Linked DNA regions of Homo sapiens. The protein of the gene in region 1 purifies or fractionates together with the protein of each later gene. This does not show direct contact. Each region holds a gene or a part of one and is shown in the gene's direction. Other genes may lie near its edges.

The links.
Region 2: the proteins of UTP4 (region 1) and WDR75 purify together in Homo sapiens (co-immunoprecipitation; 4 studies listed by BioGRID and IntAct, with this or other methods). This does not show direct contact.
Region 3: the proteins of UTP4 (region 1) and ANKRD28 purify together in Homo sapiens (co-immunoprecipitation; 3 studies listed by BioGRID and IntAct, with this or other methods). This does not show direct contact.

What each region holds. Positions count from the first base shown.
Region 1 is NC_000016.10:69,149,552-69,156,663, forward strand, and holds part of UTP4 (U3 small nucleolar RNA-associated protein 4 homolog), read left to right. Parts: intron 1-985; coding exon 986-1,157; intron 1,158-1,261; coding exon 1,262-1,353; intron 1,354-4,032; coding exon 4,033-4,129; intron 4,130-4,841; coding exon 4,842-4,906; intron 4,907-6,319; coding exon 6,320-6,442; intron 6,443-7,112. UniProt on the Homo sapiens protein: Ribosome biogenesis factor. Involved in nucleolar processing of pre-18S ribosomal RNA. Part of the small subunit (SSU) processome, first precursor of the small eukaryotic ribosomal subunit.
Region 2 is NC_000002.12:189,437,378-189,444,520, forward strand, and holds the start of WDR75 (WD repeat-containing protein 75), read left to right. Parts: upstream 1-4,096; 5' UTR 4,097-4,115; coding exon 4,116-4,201; intron 4,202-7,143. UniProt on the Homo sapiens protein: Ribosome biogenesis factor. Part of the small subunit (SSU) processome, first precursor of the small eukaryotic ribosomal subunit.
Region 3 is NC_000003.12:15,675,887-15,682,998, reverse strand, and holds part of ANKRD28 (serine/threonine-protein phosphatase 6 regulatory ankyrin repeat subunit A), read left to right. Parts: intron 1-3,435; coding exon 3,436-3,523; intron 3,524-3,614; coding exon 3,615-3,698; intron 3,699-4,644; coding exon 4,645-4,790; intron 4,791-5,371; coding exon of another isoform or gene 5,372-5,385; exon of another isoform or gene 5,386-5,436; coding exon 5,437-5,519; intron 5,520-5,942; coding exon 5,943-6,025; coding exon of another isoform or gene 6,026-6,029; intron 6,030-7,009; coding exon 7,010-7,101; intron 7,102-7,112. UniProt on the Homo sapiens protein: Regulatory subunit of protein phosphatase 6 (PP6) that may be involved in the recognition of phosphoprotein substrates. Involved in the PP6-mediated dephosphorylation of NFKBIE opposing its degradation in response to TNF-alpha.

The sequences.
Region 1 (7,112 bases):
AAAAATACAAACAAACAAACAAAAAAAGATGAGGTCTCACTATGTTGTGCAGACTGGTCTCCAACTTCTGGGCTCAAGTGATCCTCCTACCCAGTCTCCTGAGTAGCTGGGACTACAGGTTTGTGCTGCTCTGCCCACCTTGTTTATTTAAGAAACTTTTTTATTGGTGTTTCTTGCATTTTTTTTTCTTTTTTTAAGCCAGAGTCTCGCCCTGTTGCCCAGGCTGGAGTGCAGTGGTGCGATCTTGGCGTACTGCAACCTCTGCCTCCCAGGTTCAAGTGATTCTCGTGCCTCAGCCGTCCAAATAGTTGGGATTACAGGCATGCGCCACCACGCCCAGCTAATTTTTGTATTTTTAGTAGCGACGGGGTTCACCATGTTGGCCAGGCTGGTCTCAAACTCCTGGCCTCAAGTGATCCACCCAGCTCAGCTTCTCAAAGTGCTGGGATTATAGGAGTGAGCCACCATGCCTGGCTGATGTTTCTTGGATATTTTTAATGAAATAAACGTTATTAAGAAACACCTGTTCTAGTTCCAAATAAAGGATTTTCAGTATTTTTATTGGTTTAATACATTTCTTTAGTGATAATAACTTGATCATGTTAAATATTCGTATTAAATAACATGATATGAATTTCTTTGTTAGGTTTTCTCTTATGTTCTTTCGAAGGATTTAAATTTCTCAAGTAGGTCCTAGGTATTTTCTCTCTCTCAATGCTATTCTAAGGAGATCTATGTTGGGTATATGAAGCGTTGCTGTACTGTAGACGTTAATTTTGTCAGTAGGGGGCGCATTGTTACCAGTGTCTGAGCTTGCTCCTTTGATGGAATCCTTAGCTTCTGGAAGGAAAAGACCCTTGTAACTTTCCTACTGATTCTGGGCATAGGTTTACCCCTAAGCTGCTGAGACAGAAAGCCTCGGAATATTTTTCCAACCAGACCTTGTTTTGCTTACGTGTACCTCCCTCATGATTTAATTCCTCAGCAAGAAGACAGTTTCGTGGTGGGCACAGCCGAGGGAACAGTCTTCCATTTTCAGCTGGTCCCTGTGACATCTAACAGCAGTGAGAAGCAGTGGGTGCGGACAAAACCGTTCCAGCATCACACTCATGACGTGCGCACTGTGGCCCACAGCCCAACAGCGCTGATATCTGGAGGTGGGTTCCCCCTCTGGTGAGGCTGCTGCTTTACCCTGCCCAGTTCTGGCTGTTCTCGTGAGGATGACTTCTAATTCTGTACACCTTCTCCCCTGCTTTCCCAGGCACTGACACCCACTTAGTCTTTCGTCCTCTCATGGAGAAGGTGGAAGTAAAGAATTACGATGCCGCTCTCCGAAAAATCACCTTTCCCCACGTAAGTGTCCATTCCAAGCCCCTGCTAACCCCTCATCTCCCCATCCCTGTGTCCCCCTGTCCCACAAGCTCTGAACACAGCTCACGCTCGGCAAATTTGTAGGACTTTTTTTTTTTTTTTGAGACAGAGTTTGCTCTTGTTGCCCAGGCTGGAGTGCAATGGCGCGATCTCGGCTCACCACAACCTCCACCTCCCGGGTTCAAGCGATTCTCCTGCCTCAGCCTCCCGAGTAGCTGGGATTACAGGCATGCGCCACCGCGCTCAGCTAATTTTATATCTTTAGTAGAGACTGGGTTTTTCCATGTTGGTCAGGCTGATCTCGGAACTCCCAACCTCAGGTGATCTGCCCGCCTCAGCCTCCCAAAGTGCTGGTATTACAAGTGTGAGCCACCACGCTCAGCTTTGTGGTCCTTTTTTTTTCTTTTTTTTTTTTTTTGAGACTGAGTCTCTCTCTGTCGCCCAGGCTGGAGTGCAGTGGTGCGACTCCACTCACTGCAAGCTCCGCCTCCCAGGTTCATGCCATTCTCCTGCCTCAGCCTTCCGAGTGGCTGGGACTACAGGTGCCCACCACCACGCCCGGCTAATTTTTTTATTTTTAGTAGAGGTGGGGTTTCACTGTGTTAACCAGGATGGTCTTGATCTCCTGACTTCGTGATACGCCCGCCTCGGCCTCCCAAAGTGCTGGGCTTACAGGCGTGAGCCACTGTGCCCAGCCCCTGCCTTTTTTTTTTTTTTAACCATCTGGGACATGGAGATATTGTAGGACTTTCTGTAGCTACCTTCTTCATTCCTTCTGTTTTTGAGGCAAGCCACTGCAAAGACATTTATGGGGGCAGGAGATATGCAGCAGCACACCTAGTTCAGTTTCTGGGGAAATTTTTCCCTTTTCCAAATAGTTGTGGGTTATGGGAATTTTGTTAGTTTGTCTTTCAGGGTAGGCTCTATTCTGGGTGGGAGCGGGAAAACCCAGGCTTCCAGTGTTCTAGGTAAATGGTACCATCTTCCCAAGCTAGAAAACTTGCTCCCCACACCTGCTGCCCCATTCATTCAAGCAGTAAACCTCATTGAGTCTACTCATCAGTATCTTTATACATATGTTATAGATATAGATAGATAGATAGATAGATCAACAGCTCTATTGAGGCATACTTGATATATTAAAAATCATACATATTTAATGCATATGGTTTGATGAGGTTGAACATAGTCCTCATAATCTCTTGAATCGAGTCATTCATTTCTCTTTGTCTACGCTGGCATCATCCTAGTTTGGATCAGTGTCTTTTCTCATCTGGGTTCCTTTACAGTAGCTTCTTAATCATGTCCTTTTATTTGCATTTGTGTCATTCTAGCCTATTCTTCATTGATCTTATTTTATTTTATTTGTTTTTGTTTTTTTGAGACAAGGTCTTGCTCCGTCACCCAGGCTGCACTGCAGTGGTGTAATCTTGGCTCACTGTAACCTCTGCTTCTTGAGCTCAAGCAGTCCTCCCACATCAGCCTCCCGAGTTGCTGGAGCTGCAGGCATGCGCCACCAGGCTCAGCTAATTTCTGTTTTTCTTTTTTTTTTTTTTTTTTTTTTGAGACAGAGCTTTGCTCTTGTTGCCCAGGCTGGAGTGTAGTAGTGAAATCTCGGCTCACTGCAACCTCAGTCTCCTGGGTTCAAGCGATTCTCCTGCCTCAGCCTCCCTAGTAGCTGGGATTACAGGCACCCGCCACCACGCCTAGGTAATTTTTTTTGTATTTTTAGTAGAGACAGGGTTTCACCATGTTGGCCAGGCTGGTCTTGAACTCCTGACCTCAGGTGATCCACCTGCCTTGGCCTCCCAAAGTGCTGGGATTACAGGCATGAGCCACTGTGCCCGGCCTCGGCTAATTTTTTTATTTTTTATTTTTTTTAATAGAGGCAAGATCTCACTATCTTGCCCAGGCCAGTCTCAAACTCCTGGTCTCAAGCAATCCTCGCACCTCAGCCTCTCGATTGCTGGCATTACAGGCATGAGCCACTGCTCCAGGCCCATTGATCTGTTTTAAAGCACCTTTGTTCATCACTCCATGCTTCAAAGCCTCTGGTTATCCCTGTTGGCTTCAGCATAAAGACAGTTTCCTTAGTGTGTCTTATAGAACCTGTCTCCATCCAGGCCTGGCCCTTCAGCTTCTTTTTGCACCTCTCGTGCTTGTAGCACCCCCACCCAGGCTAGCCATTCTCAAGGTCTTTTTGTTCCCTCAAATACTCTTACCTTTGAGCTATGTCACATGCCATCACCCTCCTCAGAATGTTCTGCCCTGCCTCCTTCGCCTGACTGGTCTTTCCCAGTGAACCTCATCTGGGCTTCTGTATTTACCACCACACAGCTAGGTTAGATGTCCTGTCTCCTTATTTTTCAGTACATACTGTGTTTAGCCGTGTTAAAATTCTTGGCACACTGAAGTCTAATTGCTGATTTAATTCTGTGTCACCCCTTTAGAAGCATGTTGAGAGCAGTAGCTATGTTTTAATTCATCATCGTCTTCATAGATCTCAGGGCAGTGCCTGGCATATGGGAGTACTTAGGAAATATTTATCAAGGAAATGGATTTCAGCAGTAAAAAATGTGCTAAGGTGGTGCTACTGTATCTGGTACTAAGGCAGTAGATGACCCTGACTTATTTTTTTAACTTCTTGATTCTTGGATATAGCGATGTCTCATCTCCTGTTCTAAAAAGAGGCAGCTTCTCCTCTTCCAGTTTGCTCATCACTTAGAACTTTGGCGACTGGGATCCACAGTTGCAACAGGTAAGATGGGAGCACGTTTTTTTCAATAAGAAAACTGGAGAGAGAAGCCAGAAATCAGAATTGCGGTTGGAATTCTGCTTATAGAAAAACTGAAGTAGACTTTTGTGTCCATTTTAACTAATGGTTTTCCCACCCATTAGATAAAGCAAATAAGCTGTTTAGAGTATTAGAATCTTTAGCAGGATATTGGATCATCTCTTAAAAGTTTATGGCTCTAGGTGGTGCGCTGCAGGGTGTAGTCAAGGTAAGGGTTGAAGAATCGTAGTTTGCGCTAGCTTAACTGAGGTGAAAACAGGCTGTTGAAAAACAACAAGATTTAATGATGGGTAATGATAATCCTGTAGAAAAAGAAGATCACATGGATCTTATTGGAGTGACAGCCTAGTGGCCTTTTTGACTTATTAAGGAAATGTTTGAGTCCTCTCATTTGCAGTGGATTAAAATCGAGGCCACACAAACTCCACCTGTGTCCCTGGCTATGGACTAGAGCTTCAGGGAATTAGTGATGTATCAGAGGATAGAAGCAAAAGAAGTACTCACTGCTTTCTCTTCATATACCCCTCAAAAATTGTGAGCTTACTCAGTGAGCTTGTATTTTTCTGATTTCCCACTGATAGAGATTCCATTTTTCCAAGGAGTAACTTTTTAGAAGAAAAATGTACAAATACTCTTTCTTTCATAAGAAAAATCTCAGGGAAGTTTCTTGTTTCAGGCAAGAATGGGGATACTCTTCCACTCTCTAAAAATGCAGATCATTTACTGCACCTAAAGACAAAGGTAAGGAAGTTTGTTTAGGCTCTGAATTCTAGAGCCTGAATTCTAGGCTCATAATTCCCATTCTGAATTTTGAGGTTACTTAGTTTGCATCATAAATTGTATAAATTCTAAAACTATTTGAATGAAGGACTGTGTCACCAGGACTGGGTTTCCTGTGATTATAAGTAGGACGTTGAGGATTTATTAGATGGATGTATACAGGAAATAGGTTTCTCTTCTTTTGATATTATTATGAAAATAATGTGCTTTTATTTATTTATTTATTTATTTATTTATTTATTTATTTTTGAGACGGAGTTTCACTCTTGTTGCCCAAGCTGGAGTGCAATGGCACCACCTCAGCTCACCGAAACCTCCGCCTCCTGGGTTCAAGCGATTCTCCTGCTTTAGCCCCCCAAGTAGCTGGGATTACATGCATGCGCCACCACGCCCGGCTAATTTTTTGTATTTTTAGTAGAGATGGGGTTGGTCAGGCTGGTCTTGAACTCCCGACCTCAGGTGATCCGCCCGCCTTGGCCTCCCAAAGTGCTGGGATTATAGGCGTGAGCCACCGCGCCCAGCCATGTGCATATTTTTAAAAACTCAAATAGTACAAAAGGGTATACAATGAAAAAAAAATCATTTTGTGAGTTTTTAAAAACTACATACATGTTACATTCAACTTTTCTTTATTCTCCAGATTCTTTTTTGTTTGGTTAGTTGGTTGGTTTTTTTGTTTGTTTGCTTACTTTTTTGAGGCAGGGTCTCATTGTGTTATCCAGGCTGGAGAGCAGTGGCACGGTCACGGCTCACTGCAGCCTCAACCTCCCAGGCTCAGGTGATCCTACCACTTCACCCTCCCAGGTAGCTGGGACTACAGGTGTGCACCACCATGCCCGGCTAATTTTTTGTAGAGTCAGGGTTTCACCATGTTGTCCAGACAGGTCTTGAACTCCTGGGCTCAAGCAATCCTCCACCTCAGCCTCCCAAAGTGCTGGGATTACAGGCATGACCCACTGTACCTGGCCTTCAAATGTTCTTCATTTGCTATTTCTTAGAAGTCTTTAAAGCAGAACGCCGTACACAAAACAGAAAATAAGTACTTCAAACCACCTATCCTCCAGAGCTTTCCTTCAGTAAATGCCTCCCTGCTCAGGTTTCTGAAGTTGGGGTCTAGTATGAGGCTATCTATGAAGTATTCAAAGGGCCAAAATAAGAATAGACCTCCATTCTTGGATTTGGAAATCAAAGCCATGCCTTTTAGGTGCTCTGCCTCTGAAATAATCATATTAATGCAGACCACACGAGGATCGAGATTATGTGTAGATATCTGTGGGTATGTCCAGAGTGGCAAGAGCTTGAGGCGTCATGTCCCAGTGCACCTTGTTATGTGAAGTTTAATTGCACATTCATCTTGATTCCTGATATTGCCAGGGTCCTGAGAACATTATCTGTAGCTGTATCTCCCCATGTGGAAGTTGGATAGCCTATTCTACAGTTTCTCGGTTTTTTCTCTATCGGCTGAATTATGAACATGACAACATAAGCCTCAAAAGGGTAAGTGATAGTCCAATATCTGGTCACATAAGAGGAAACTTCCTAAATATGTCATTTTTGTGTGAAGTGGAAATCAACTGGATGTGAATCCTTGCTCAGTTAAAAACTATTTGGAGATTTGGAGAAGGCTGTTATGAAACAGTGTTTTATTTCTTTCTTTCTTTTTTTTTTTTTTTTTGAGACGGAGTTTTGCTCTTGTCACCCAGGCTGTAGTGCAATGGCACAGTCTTGGCCCACTGCAACCTCCGCCTCTTGGGTTCAAGCGATTCCTGTGCTTCAGTCTCCCGAGTACCTGGGATTACAAGCACCCACCACCACACCTGGCTGATTTTTGTATTTTTAGTAGAGATGGAGTTTCACCACCCGTTGGCCATGCTGGTCCTGAACTCCTGACCTCAAGTGATTCACCCGCCTCAGCCTCCCAAAGTGCTGGGTGCTGGCATTACAGGCGTGAGCCACCGCACCCAGCCTTTTTTTTTTTTTTGACCGAGTTTCACTCTTGTCACCCAGGCTGGAGTGCAATGGCACCACCTCAGCTCACCGCAATCTCTGCCTCTCGGGTTCAAGCCATTCTCCTGCCTCAGCCTCCCGAGTAGCTGGGATTACAGGTGCCCACCACCAGGCCTGGCTACTTTTTGTATTTTTAGTAGAGATGGGGTTTCACCACGTT
Region 2 (7,143 bases), on another chromosome or scaffold:
AGGGCATGAGTTTCTGCATTTCTAACAAGCTCCCAGGTGACACTGCTGTTGCTGGTCCACGGACCACACTTTGTGCAACAACATTTCAAACCATTCTAAAATTTCGCTTTAGCCACTGGGTACAAGAGATCATACAATTTTAATCTATGGGTTTAATCATAGCCAAAACAGAAAAGGTGTAATTATAACCATGAGAACTGTTAACCTTAAATGGAACATAACCCGCTTGTGATAATCATCACTTAACTGCCTGAGGTTCCTAGGGCAGAGGTATACAAGAGAGAAAGTGCAGAATGAAAAATATATGGGATAGATAAGGATTTCAGCATCATAGGAAACCTAAGAAGAGATAAAAATTGCACCATCATTAGGGAATGAGGAAACATAGCAGAGCCCAAGGGCCTATCACTAAGTAATTCATGACATTAATACAAAATCGATGTAATCTGCTTGAAGATGTCTCCTATGTACATTATGCAGGGTAGTGGTGTGAAATACTGTACATGGTGTTTATATCTGTTGAAGGGAACAGAAACATACATGAAGATACTAAGCAGTAAAAATGTGACTAAATCCTTCTCACTAATGGGAAAGCTTTTAAAAATTTTATTAAATAAAAAATAAATAAAAATAAAAATTTTAAAAGAGAATGCTCAAAACTCAACAAGAAGATAACCAATAAAGCAATGCGTGAAGGACTTGATGACACTTCACCAAAGAGGATATAAAATGATGCTCAGCATTAGTCATTAGGGAAGTGAAAATTAAAACCACAATGAAATACCACTACAAACTTATTATGATGGCTAAAATAAAAAAAAAAAACCTTGACAATACCAAGTCCTGACAAGGGTGTAAAGTAACTAAAACTTTCATACATTACTTATGGAAATGCAAAAATAGTACAGTAACTCTGGGAAAAAAAGAGTTTGGCAATTTCTTAAATAAACATACACTTATGATTTGAGCAATCTCATTTGCTGGTATTTATCCTAGAAAAATAAAAGCTTATGTTCACACATAAACCTACATATGAATGTTTAGAGAAGTATTATGCATAATTTCTAAAACCTGGGGGTAAAACACATTCAACAAATAAACTGTGAAATAGCCATACAATGGAATACCACTCAGCAATATAAAGCACTGATGCACATAACATAAATGCAATATGCTAACTGAAAGAAGCTAGACTGAAAAGGTTACATACTATATGATACCATTTATACATGGCTTTCTGGAAAAGGCAAAACTAGGGATGGAGAACATTAGTGGTTGCCAGGGGATAGGTCTTGGGGAGGGGAAGGAGAAATACTGGGGAATTCTTTGAGGTGCTGGAATTCTTCTGTATCCTATTTGTGATGGTGGATACGATAATTTGTGCATCATAGATATCAAAGAAAGCAGATTTTATTGTATGTAAATTTTTAAAATTAGCCTAATCGTTTCACTTTTTAACACAAAGGCTACACTGTCTTCAATTTCAGAGTAAAACCCAAAGCTGTTACAATGATCTAGGAGACCCTATGAACTGGCCTCTTATTACCTCTCTGACCTCACCTTTTACTATACCCCCTTGATGATTATTCTCCAGCCACACTGGCCTCTTGACTTATCTTGAACATGGAAAGGAATACTCTTTCCTCTGGCTGACTCTTTCACCAAACAGCTCCATGCTTATTCACACTCTCAACCTTTTCAGGTTATTTCAAATGTTACCTTCTCAGTAAGGCTTTCCCTGAAAACCCATAATAAAGGTGATCAAACCCTTATAATCACTTTCTTTTCTACTTTGAGTTTCCCCTTGGCACATAAATACATCAAAAGTATAATAAGTTTTTGTTTCTTCCCATGATAAGGTAAGGTCCAGTAACATACAGATTTTGTTAACTATTTTTCTCACTCCAGTATTCCCAGAGCCTGAAAGAATGTCTGGCATATACTAGGCACTTAGTAAATATTTCCTGGATGGAAGATGCCAAATAAGTGTTTCTGGAAAATCCTTTTCCTTCTGTATATAGGCTATGCTCTTTCTTGCTATTCCCTTATTTCTTCTAACTGAAAGGAACATGAACTGTGAGCATAAGGACAAAACCAATATGGTTAAGGACAATAACACAAAGAACAAAGTAGAGAAAGCACAGGTCCCTGGTGGCATGAATGATCCACTGCACTAGCCCTATTCTGCCTACCTCAGCCTTCTTGTTACATGATAAAGACAACGCACTATTAATTAAACAGCTGTAGGTGGGATTGGTTCCTTAAAAATTATGTAAAAAGAAATCAAAATACAAATGACTTATCTTTCTGGGCACTTCAGTAAATTAAAACTCTGTGTAAAATAATCCTCCTATACATTTATCAATCCAGCTAGTTTTTGTCCATATCAGGATTTCTGATTCTTTTCTGAAAAATCTAAAGTTACCATACAGTAACATACAACTAAAGTCACACTAATTTGAGTGAAAATATTTATTTTGTTTCTTGGCTCAGGCCCTAAGGAAAAGCCTGTATCAGGTTACAAAGTACCCAACAAAGTCTTTAAAAGATTTATTGTGCATACATCAAGAGACTAAACAAAAAGAGGTTAAGGCTGCAGAATCAAAAGTGATATTTTACACTCCATCCACTGTGACAAAGGGTATCACAGTCATGAAAGAGAAAGCTGGTTACAGCTTGAGATAAACCAAAATTATTAAATATCTCCCTTTCTAGTTCTGGCTCCCCAAATAATAAAGTTTTGAGCACTTTAATAAGCTAGACTCCTCAGTAAAAAGTAAATTTATCCCTGATTTTTACAGTGGTGCTGTCCCAGGATATGTCTTGACCTTTGTGAATATTGTATTTCTCCACCATAAATAAACTTATAGGTATAATCATGTGTGGCTTAATGATGGGGATATGTTCTAAGAAATGCATTTTAGGTGATTTCATCATTGTGTGAATATCACAGAGTGTACCTACACAAACCTAGATGGTACAGCCTACTACACACCTAGGCTGTACGTTATAGCTGATTGCTCCTAGGCTACAAATCTGAACAACATGTTACTGTACTCAATATTGCAGGCAATTGTAACAGAATAGTATTTGTGTATTTAAACACATAAAAGGTACAGTAAAAACACAGTATTATAATCTTACGGAATCACCATGTTATATGCATTGATTGAAAGATCCTTATGTGACATGTGACTATATTTGAGACCTTGGTAATTTTGTGGTAAATCCACAAATCAAGAAGCGAAATCAAAATAGGCAACATAATATACAGGGTCCAAGAATATGATACGTGTAAGTTTACAAAGGAAAACTGGAGATAAACTGGCAAAAATAAACATGTTGAGATTTTAGGGGTTCCTAACCCACAGATTCTATTCACTAATGGGAAAAGGTAAAACTCAGGAAACCAGAGACCAGCGCCCTGAAACCTGGCGGGACTGGCCGAATGTCAGATTAGCCCGAGCAGCTACACTGAACGCTGCGGAAGATGCACCAGAATCCCGGAGTAGGAGCCAGATTTCCAAAGGAAGAAAGCTAGGCCCTAGGACTGTGGAGATTCTGTAGTAACCTAAGCGATGTTCACAAGAACAGAAGAACGGCTAATGAGAGGAACAAAAAGCTGTACAAGGAAGAGAAAGCTACCTTTCCACCCAATAACTCAACGCTGCGACCGAGAAAACCAGGGACGCGAGAGGCTCGCGTCATCCTGCAGCGCCGACACCACAGACACTAGAAAGCGACGCCTCCGGTGGGACGACTGGAGGTCACGTGGTACACTATACGCCACCTTTCCCTTCTGGCGGAAAAAGCCATAGAGTCAGGTTGACAAGGCCTGAGAGAAATATGTCTGTATTAAATAATTGTGTATAGGTATATAATAAAAACTGATTGTCTCTAAATCTCTGTTTTGCTTTCACCTTTTCTTACAAGTGTCTTAGTTTGACATTGCCCACACAAAAGGTGCCTGCACGGAAGCGGAGTCCTACCACCGAGTCTCAGGCCTAGAAGGGCCCGGGGGTGGGTTCTGTGGGCTGGGAACAGCCTTATTACCCGGCTCAACGAAGGAAGTTCAGGGCGGGACCAGAGATTGGCCATTCCGCTACTGCGCAAAGATGGTGGAGGAGGAGAACATCCGCGTGGTTCGTTGTGGCGGCAGCGAGTTGAACTTTAGGAGAGCTGTGTTCTCTGCAGATTCTAAGTATGAGGGGCACCGCGCTTTGTCGGCTGAGGGGCGGGGCGTGAGTTTCTCGAGGGTCGGGGAGAAGGAATTGTCAGTCGCGTTCGGACTCGCCCGCCTGGCGGATATCGGCTTTGGGTAGAGCACGCGCCTGTGGGGGATCCCCAGGGTACCTGGGAGGTCCCGTTACCACTGCAGATTGGGTTGCGTCCCCCGATTCCTGGACAGTTTACCTGCAGGTAGATAAAGGCCCTGGAGCCGGTCTCCGTGTCGAGGATCTGGAAGGTGTTCGGGCGGCTGGAAAATGGTCCAGGGGTGGATGTGTATGCCACTACCTTTGCAGTACCTACTCTTTCGTACAGAATCATGTTTTGGAGTGACTAAAACCTAAAACTATTCCGCTTTTTCTACCCACTCCTCACTCCTGAAGCATAGTGCATGAAGCATAGTGCAGTCTTTTCGGAACTTTACATGAAAACAGATGTTAGATTCTTTATGAGATAAAAATACGCTAAGACTTGGTCTCTTTTCTCAGTGTAGCTGGAAACCAAACCACTCCCTGGCTTCAAAATCCACTTCTTACATTATGAAACCTTTGTAAGTTTCTTAATCTTTGCCTCAGTTGCCATCATCTGTAAAGGGGGACAATATTTAGTTCATCTCACGTGGTTATTGGGAGGATTAAATGCCTCAATATGTTAAAACTACAGACAACAATGCCCGGCACATAATGGCTCAATGTATGTAGCTGTAATCATTATTACTGTATTGTCAGGTTTTCAAATAACTTTAGGTAGGGTGGCACTTAATAAAATCAAAAAACCCTTTCTGCCTTAGAAGAGTAGAGATAGTATTTTATGAAAGTTTGTAGCCTCCACAATATTCTTTTTTTTTTTTTTTTTTTTTTTTTTGATGCAGAATCTCACTCTGTCACCCAGGCTGGAGTGCAGTGGCTCAATCTAGGCTCATTGCAACCTCCGCCTCCCTGGTTCAAGCAATTCTGGTGCCTCGGCCTCCTGAGTAGCAAGTATTATAAGCGCGGGCCACCACGCCCGCTAATTTTTGTATTTTTAGTAGAGAGAGGGTTTCGCCATGTTGGCCAGGCTGCCCTGGAACTCCTGGCCTCAAGTGATCTGCCCACCTGAACCTCCCAAAGTGCAGCGATTACAGTGAGCAACTGTGCCCGGCCCACCCCCACAATATTCTGCATATGAGTGTACGACAGGTAGTTGTTGAAGGTAATGCAAGCATGACTGAAAGAGCTTTTATAAATTGCCTTAGAAGCCAAAAAAAAATGAGTCCTGTGGCTTTGTTGACATTGATCTTATGAATCAAAGGAAGAAACAGGCTTTAAGAGGCTGTCACACTGTGACGCTTCGGACTCATATCCATGTAACCAGTACTGTTCTTATACCTTATTCATTATAATGAGGTCCATTGTGTGTTTGATTTGCTAAGCCCAACAATTCATTTTTTAAGTACTTGTCAACTATATATTATGTATAACATGCTGCAGTGACAAAAACTAAGATAATTTTAATATTGATCCTGCCTTCGAGGAGCTTACAGTCTAGTGAGGAAAAGGAATACTCAGTAACAGATTTTTCTTACTGTGGTCCTGTAGGAAGGAGCTCATAAGAAGAGATTACTTCCCAAACTAAGAAGGACGGAGAAGATTGCTGAGCAAATGACATTTGTGCTAGGCCTAGATGATATTTTAAGTGGGGAATATGGACAGAAGACATTTCAGGTGGGGAGGACAGTGTAAGCAAGAAAGACAGAAGTGATTTCTGTTGAACAGGCTGGTACAGTTAGCTAGTAAGAATGGTATATATTAAGGGAGGTAGTGGGAAATGAGGTTGGAAAGGACACGTGCAGCCAGTTGTTGGTTGTTGTTTGGACCAAAGAGAATGGTTTTTTAATTCTTTAAGGGGACGGCGGTAATCAGTTGTAATTTGATTGTGTTTCTTCAATAATGTTAACCTGAAAACTGTAAAACTCTATGATACATGTTGGTGAGTGGAGAAATGAGAGCTGGGTAGGCTGATGTACATAAAGTACAGTGATGGCATAGAAGAGGGAGTTACATAGTCAGTTTTACCTTCAGTAGTGGTTCTTGCAGCAATGGCAAGAGTTTGCCTCACCAGTAATACTGGGGGATGGAATGCCAGGCAAACAAGCTTGAAATCTGGGGGCCTTGAAAACTGGGGGGATTGAGCCTTCTATGTAAAGTCAGTGTAATTGCAGCATAGGGTATAAGAGATGGCAGGAAAAGACTCTGGAAGAATAGAGACCAGGGGTTAGAAGACCAGTGCAGGCATCCAAGCAAGAAATCACTTTTGCCCAAACTAAGGTAATATTGAACATGGAGAAAAGAGACAGGGTTTTAGAGTGATTTCACAGTCAGTGTCAATGGGGAGATAGAGTTCAGTTCGGGGTTATTAACTCTAAGGTACCTGTAAAACAACCAGGTGGATATAGCTAGTAGTAGGTAGAAATTCAGGACTGAAGTTTGGAGAACTTGGTCAAGATTTAGAGATTTTTTTTTTGTCATCTATATATAAGCTAATAATTAAAACCATTTATCTAACAAATGACAGGATTTTAATGAACTCAGCAAAGATTTGAATATTATCTACAAGGTACCACAAGGGATTGGCTGCCTTATACAAAGAGGAATAATTTTGTATTTTACCTCAAGGTGCTTATCAAGAAAGCCAAAATCATAAAAAGACAGACTTGTGGAATTTTGGCGGCTTCCTCTTGAAACTAGAACAAAAACTCTGTTCTAGGTACTTGAGTAGGTTGTTCTGAGGGGCATGTGGGTATACATGTAAGTTCCTGGTGTTCCCATATTAGATATTACTGACTCTCAGTCCAGTTCTGTTTGCATCCCATTCTGCGGCATCCCACAGTTATATGGTGCTGTGAATTATTGCACTGGGGTTGTTAGGGTAGAGAAA
Region 3 (7,112 bases), on another chromosome or scaffold:
CTAAGCACGTTTTGTGCAAGAGACAGAATTTTGCAAGAACTGCATGCCTGGTTGCCATTTAAAGATCATAACAAATGTGTCTGATTTTCAGCCTGTAGCAAAATTGTGGTGATGCTGAATTTGAGCTGGAAGGAATTTAATGTGTGTTGGCTATATGCAATAAGCGACTATATAGACAGCCTAAAATTAATACCATATTTATAGCCAAAAGCCCGTTTTATAATTTGGCATTCTGAAAGTAGAATATGTAAAATGGTTTTTACTTTAACTAGTAATTATTGTACAGCTGGAAAGAAAAGTGGAAGCATGCCAACAGAACAGAAAACAACCTCTTAAAATTAAAATGAAATGATGGCCAAGTTTTAGAAAAACACTGGCTGTAGATACTAAAAGTTCACAATTTCAGTTTATATAGTCATTCAATCACAGAACTTAAGAATACTTATTATTCCTTTAAAAAATGTGTTCATTTTTATGAAGCTCTAAACATCCTCAGACTAGCCTCTGAAACTCAGGAGGACCCAGTTTACCATCCTATCTATCTTTCATAAATGATGATAGAAAGTTATGAGATTGTCTGCTTGATATCACCCAGTAATGATTTCTGGAGGTCACAAAGGGGCCCCACTGTTCCCTTTTCTCAGTCTGTACTCAGATGGTGAGTGGTTCTCAAACCCTTTGGTCTCAGGAACTATGGATTGATACTGACTGTATTAGAAATTGTAATTGAGAAATTTTTAAATACTTACTGATTTATTTAAAAATAATGTCTATTACATGTTAACATAAATAATCTTTTTTTATGAAAACTATTTTCCAAAAGTATTTTCTTTTTAGTGAGAAGAGTAGTACATCTCTTCATAGCTAATTTAAGAGAATAGTTGGGTTCTCATCTGTGTTTTTATTCATATTTTTTTTGCGTCACCCCAGGGTTCCCTAGGCCACACCTTAAGAACCCATATACCTGGAGAATGAGGGGCTCTTAAGTCAACAATGGACAACTTTCCATTGCTGTATCTTAGTAATGAGTTAACATTCAGAACGATGGCATTAAAGGAGTTTCTCAACCTCAGCACTATGACGTTTTGGGCCAGATGATTGTTGCAAGGGACTCTCCAGTGCATTGCAAGATGTTTAGCAGCATCATTGGTTTCTACCCACTAGATGCCAGTTGCACTGCCCCACCTTCAGTTGTGATAAACAAAAATGTCTGTAGGCATTGCCACATACAATATCTGCTGATGGGCAAAATCCACTTGAAAACTACTAGATTAGAGAAAAGAACTGACAAAAGATGGAACACAATTACAGGTTTTTCTAAAAATTACTTTTCCACAATTATAGGGTAAAGTTTAAGCTGATTAAGTTTGAGTAATTTAAAAAGAAAAGAAAATATAACATCACTTTGGTAGGCAAATATTAAACCATGAAAATGTATAAAGAGGCCATGTAAGAATCTTATTCCTAAAGTAGATCCCAAATGACTAATGAAATAAAATAAGCAACATTTTATTTGTAGTAATTAGGGTATTAAATTAAAACCCTGGCTCTGGAATTAGGGTAAGAAAATTTGAAATTTGGATTTTTCTGTTTTTGAAGTTACTGTTAAAAACTATGGACCAGATATTGATGAACAGTCAATACAGTCAGCCCTCCATATCCATGGGTCCCCCATCGGTGAATTCAACTGAATGTCCATCAGAAATATAGTTAGGCTGAACATGTACAGACTTTTTTTTTGTCATTATTCCCTAAACAATACAACAACTATTTATATAGCATTTACATTGAATTAAGTTGTAAGTAATCTAGAGATGACTTAAAGTATATGAGAAGATGTGCATAGGTTATACACAAATAAACCATTTTGTACAAGGGACCTGTATAAGGGACTATGGAGTTTTGCTGTCAGTGGGGAGTCCTGGACCCAATCCCCCAAGAATACCAAGGCTGGATACTTCTCCTTTACCACAGCAATATCACTTTGGTAGGAAATTGTCCTACAAAAATACTTCCTAAAATAAAAACAAAATGTTGGCCGTGGTGGCTTATGCCTGTAATCCCAGCATTTTAGGAGGCTGAGGCAGGCAGATCACTTGAGCTCTGGGATTCAAGACCAGCCTGAGCAACATGGCAAAACTTCATCTCTACAAAATATCAAAAAATTAGCCAGGTGTGGTAGCCTTGCACCTGTTGTCTTAGCAACTCAGGAGGCTGAGGTGGGAGGATCACTTGAGCCCAGGAGGTTGAGACTGCAGAGAGTCATGATCATGCCACTGCACTTCAACTTGGGCAACAGAGCAAGACCCTGTCTCAAAAAATTGTTTTAATAAAATAAAAAAATACCAGAATGTTTCATTACAGCGTTGTTGATAATATCATGAAGAATTTTTTTAAACTAGCAATCACTTTAAAATCCATAATTAGATTAAATAATTTATGATATACTTTGATACTGTGAAGCTCTTCAGAACATTAAAGAATAAGATTTTAGCCGGGCATGGTGGCTCACACCTGTAATCCCAGCACTTTGGGAGACTGAGGCAGGTGGATCACCTGAGATCAGGAGTTTGAGATCAGCCTGACCAACATGGTGAAACCCCGTGTCTACTAAAAATACGAAAAAAGCTAGCTGGGCATGGTGGTGGGCGCCTGTAGTCCAGCTACTTGGGAGGCTGAGACAGGAGAATCACTTGAACCCAGGAGGCAGAGGTTGCAGTGAGCCAAGATCGCGCCACTGCACTCCAGGCTGGGCAACAGAGTGAGACTCCATCTAAAATAATAATAATAATATTTCATATATGCTATTATGGAAGGATATGTGTAGTTAATATTAAGTAAAAGGCAAGTTGCGGAATTAAACATCCCATTGCCATTAAGAAAAAAATAAAAAAATAGCACAGTCATTTCTCGTTTGCTGTTGAGGATTGGTTTCCAGGACCCCTTGTGAATACCAAAACCAACAGGCGCTCAAGTCCCTTATAGAAAATGGGATAGTATTTGCATATAACCTATGCACATTCTCTGCTATACTTTAAATCATCTCTGGATTACTTATAATAACCAATGTAATGTAAATGTTATGTAAATAATTGGTATGCTGTATTTAGGGTATATGACAAGAAAAAAAGTCTGCTCTGTTTTTTTTTTCCCCCAAATATTTTTAATTTGGGGTTGGTTGAATTGATGGATGCAGAACCCACGGATACAGAGAGCCAACTGTATGTATTTTGTGCGTGCAGTTGTATATGCCTAGAAATTTTCAGGAACTACTGGTGGCTTAACAGCTACCAATGGTTATATTCCAGAGAGGGGATCTGGGAGATGGGATGAGGGAGAGACTTTTACATTTTTCCTTTAAACACTTACATGTACCTGTGATTTTTGCCAGTATCTCCTTTGAATTTTAATACCTGGTTCTTTACACCTATTTAGGTCACGAGACATGTGTAGAACTGCTTTTAGAACAGGAAGTTTTCCAGAAAACGGAAGGAAATGCTTTTAGTCCATTGCATTGTGCCGTGTAAGTAAAGCCAGAATGAATCAGATTTGGTTTGAGTGTTTTAAGAAATACACCATTGCTGTGAGAATGATCACCTTGTTACCTTACACAGGATAAATGACAACGAAGGTGCTGCTGAGATGTTAATTGATACATTAGGTGCCAGCATTGTGAACGCCACAGATTCAAAAGGAAGGTAGGAATTCAACTATGTATTAAATAGTTTTAGCCAGGCACAGTGGCTCATGCCTATAATCCTAACAATCTGGGAGGCTGAAGTGGGAGGATGACTTGAAGCCAGGAGTTTAAGACCAGCCTGGTCAACATAGCAAGACCTGCATCTCTACCAAAAAAAAAAAAAGTGCATGATGATGCATGCCTGTGATCCCAGCTGTTCAGGAGGCTGAGGCAGGAGGATCACTTGAGCCCAGGAGTTTGAGGCAACAGTGAGCTATGATTGCACCACTGCATTCCAGCCTGGGTGACAGAGTGAGATCCCGTCTGGGCCCTACCCCCCAAAAAGGTTTTATTTTCAATAAGAAATAAATTTTAACTACTGGCTGGTGTGAGAGAATTTACAGAAAACCCATTATTAAAAGTTGATTTTTATATTTGCGAGTATAAATTGTTATAAGATCTCAATTATTTTTACATTATAAAAGGTTTTTCTATTTATAGATTTTAGGAAGTTTTCCTCCTTTAAACTATTTTAACATGTAAATATTTTTCCCTCTCTTTCGAATTTGTTTCCCAAAGATTATTGTTAACAAAGTTAACAGTTTTCTAAATGGGAATAAAGCCTGGAAAAAAGTCCAGCAGTTGTAATAAGTGGTGGTATTCAGATTAGGATTTATTTCTTTCAAAATTTCCTTTAATGATGTAATGTTATTTTAGCAATTTTGTAATTAATCTTTACTTCATACTAGTTCTAGTTTAATTAAAGCCTTCTGTATTATTGAAAGTACAAATTTCTATGAGAGAAATTAGTAAGCTCCATTGAGCCTATTTGTTTGTGTACAGGCAGTGCTTTTGTAGCCTAATATGTAAACCCTTAAAAACAGCATGTCACAAATTAAAGAATATTTTTCCAGCATATATAACATTCAAATTTAGTCATATATTTCAATTTTTCTTTATCACAGAACTCCTCTCCATGCAGCCGCCTTCACAGACCATGTAGAGTGTTTACAGCTGCTGCTCAGCCATAATGCTCAAGTCAATTCTGTGGACTCTACAGGGAAAACACCTCTTATGATGGCTGCAGAAAATGGACAAACAAATACAGTTGGTAAAGAAACTTCTTTAAAATTGTATTTTCCTAAGTATGTGTATCACTTATGTATAACTTAGATCCCAAGACTTCTGACTTCAACTAGTTATCTTACCACTCCTAAGACTTAAAACCTTTTACCTGTTTGCAATCCACATTTTCATTTAGGGATACAATGTTTTAGTTTGCCCTGACTATTGAGGAGTCTACTTTACCATGGCCTTATAACATAGTGGTTAAGAACACTGGCTGTGGAGTTGGATTGCCTGAATGTGAGTCCTAGATCTTTCAGCTAAATGACCTTATGCCTCAGTTTTCTCATTTATAAAATGAGAAAAATAACAGTATCTACTTGGTGTGTTGTTGTGAGGGTTAAATAAATTACTTTAAATCCAGAGCATATAAAACAGTATTTAAAATTTAGTGCACAGTCACAAAATAAATGTTAATTGCCATTGTTAGAGTGTGTGACTTATACAACAATATAATTGTCTCATACAATTATATGAAGATATATATGTTATATATTACAATATTTTTCTTGTACTTAAGTTTTTGTGAGAGGGACTTTTTTGCTTTGTATCTTCATTTCTCTACAGTGAGTTATTGGTAATCTAAGAAACATGTTCATAAACATAAGAATTGATGCACTTTTTCCTCCCAGAGATGCTGGTTAGCAGTGCTAGTGCAGAACTGACTTTACAAGATAACAGTAAAAATACTGCCCTCCATTTGGCTTGTAGCAAGGTATGTATACATCTTAAGAATATGTTTCCATTGTTAATATTAACAGTGACCTTAAAAGTTTTTTGACTTCACTAAAATGAACAACTCAGGACCAAACCTCTCTAATGATCACTGGTATTAGATTTCTTGAACAAAATTGACTTATAAGGCACCATGGCGTATCAAAGTCTCCAGTAAGCCAAATAAGTTTTGGAACACAAGTCTAAGCATAATTATCCTCTTTCCTTAATCTTAATTTTGTCCTCTTCTCCTACCCTCACTCCCAAGATGTGTTTGGGCAAATATTAAGATATTAGCCAGGAAAATTCATGGTATATGTATGGTGTTGTACATAATATATGGACTAGGATTGCAGATTGTTGGGTGTATAAATGTATCTTTAATGGTGCTCAAGTTTTTATAACTTATCTGCCACAATTATAGGGTCATGAAACTAGTGCCTTGTTAATACTGGAAAAGATAACAGATAGAAACCTCATCAATGCAACCAACGCAGCCTTGCAAACGTGAGTACTGTCAGTATCTAGTATAAACTTTGTGACCTATAATTATAAAAATGATAAATGGATTTTTTTAAACATGTGACTATTGGAATAGGTTTCATTAGTCATAGAAGCAATTTTAATAGTTTTACAACTGTCAAAACTCATTTCTAAAATGATCACAACTAAAAGCCATATTATTTAAAATGCTTTTGAACTGAAATTTTATTATAACATTGACAATAATGTATTTTTTTCCTTAATCCACCTACCTAATTTTCTGAAGGAAAGTAGTACTATTTTGTGTATTCTGTGGAAATCAACTGTAATAATATGTTACTTGAAACTAACAATAAATGAGGTAAGAAGCTTTATGTGTGTCTGTAAGCCAATAAGGTTTCTTAAAGAATCAAAATTTTTAATAATGTGAGCAGCCAACCTCCAGATAGACTGACAGAGATCTTACATCAGTGTCTCTCATTGTCCCTTGCTATTCCATTTTGAGGTTTAGTAAAGATAAAAATCTTAGAATATTGTTGCCCGTTCTGGGATTAGTCAGATCCCTTGAAGGTCCAAAAATTAGTCATGATGCTTGTAAGCTGTTTTCAAAGCCTATTAGAATTTATGCTACTGCAGTTTACAGTTTTTAATGTATAGTCTGTATCTTTACCAGCCTCATTCCTTAACAACGGAGGAATGCAATTTCAATGGTAAAATGTTTTTAAACATTGAAAAGAAAAGTAACAAAAGGATTGGGTGAAGGTAGGGACCTGTCGATGGGACCTATGGCTGAGCTTGATGCCGAGCTACACGTTGACAAGGTGTGACAGTGCACTGCACAGAGGTTCTGCTCTCCCTGCCCCCATCTTTGTTATTAGGACTAGGTTTCTCGAGTTTGTACCTCTTGGTCTTCACAAGTTGACAAAAATGCTCTTTGACAGCCAGGTGTGTATGTGTATGTGCATGCACATGCACATATGTGTACATGTATCATGTTTTTTCCCCTAGACCTCTGCATGTTGCTGCCCGAAATGGGCTAACAATGGTGGTTCAGGAACTTTTGGGAAAAGGAGCAAGTGTGCTTGCAGTAGATGAAAATGGTAAGTTGGTT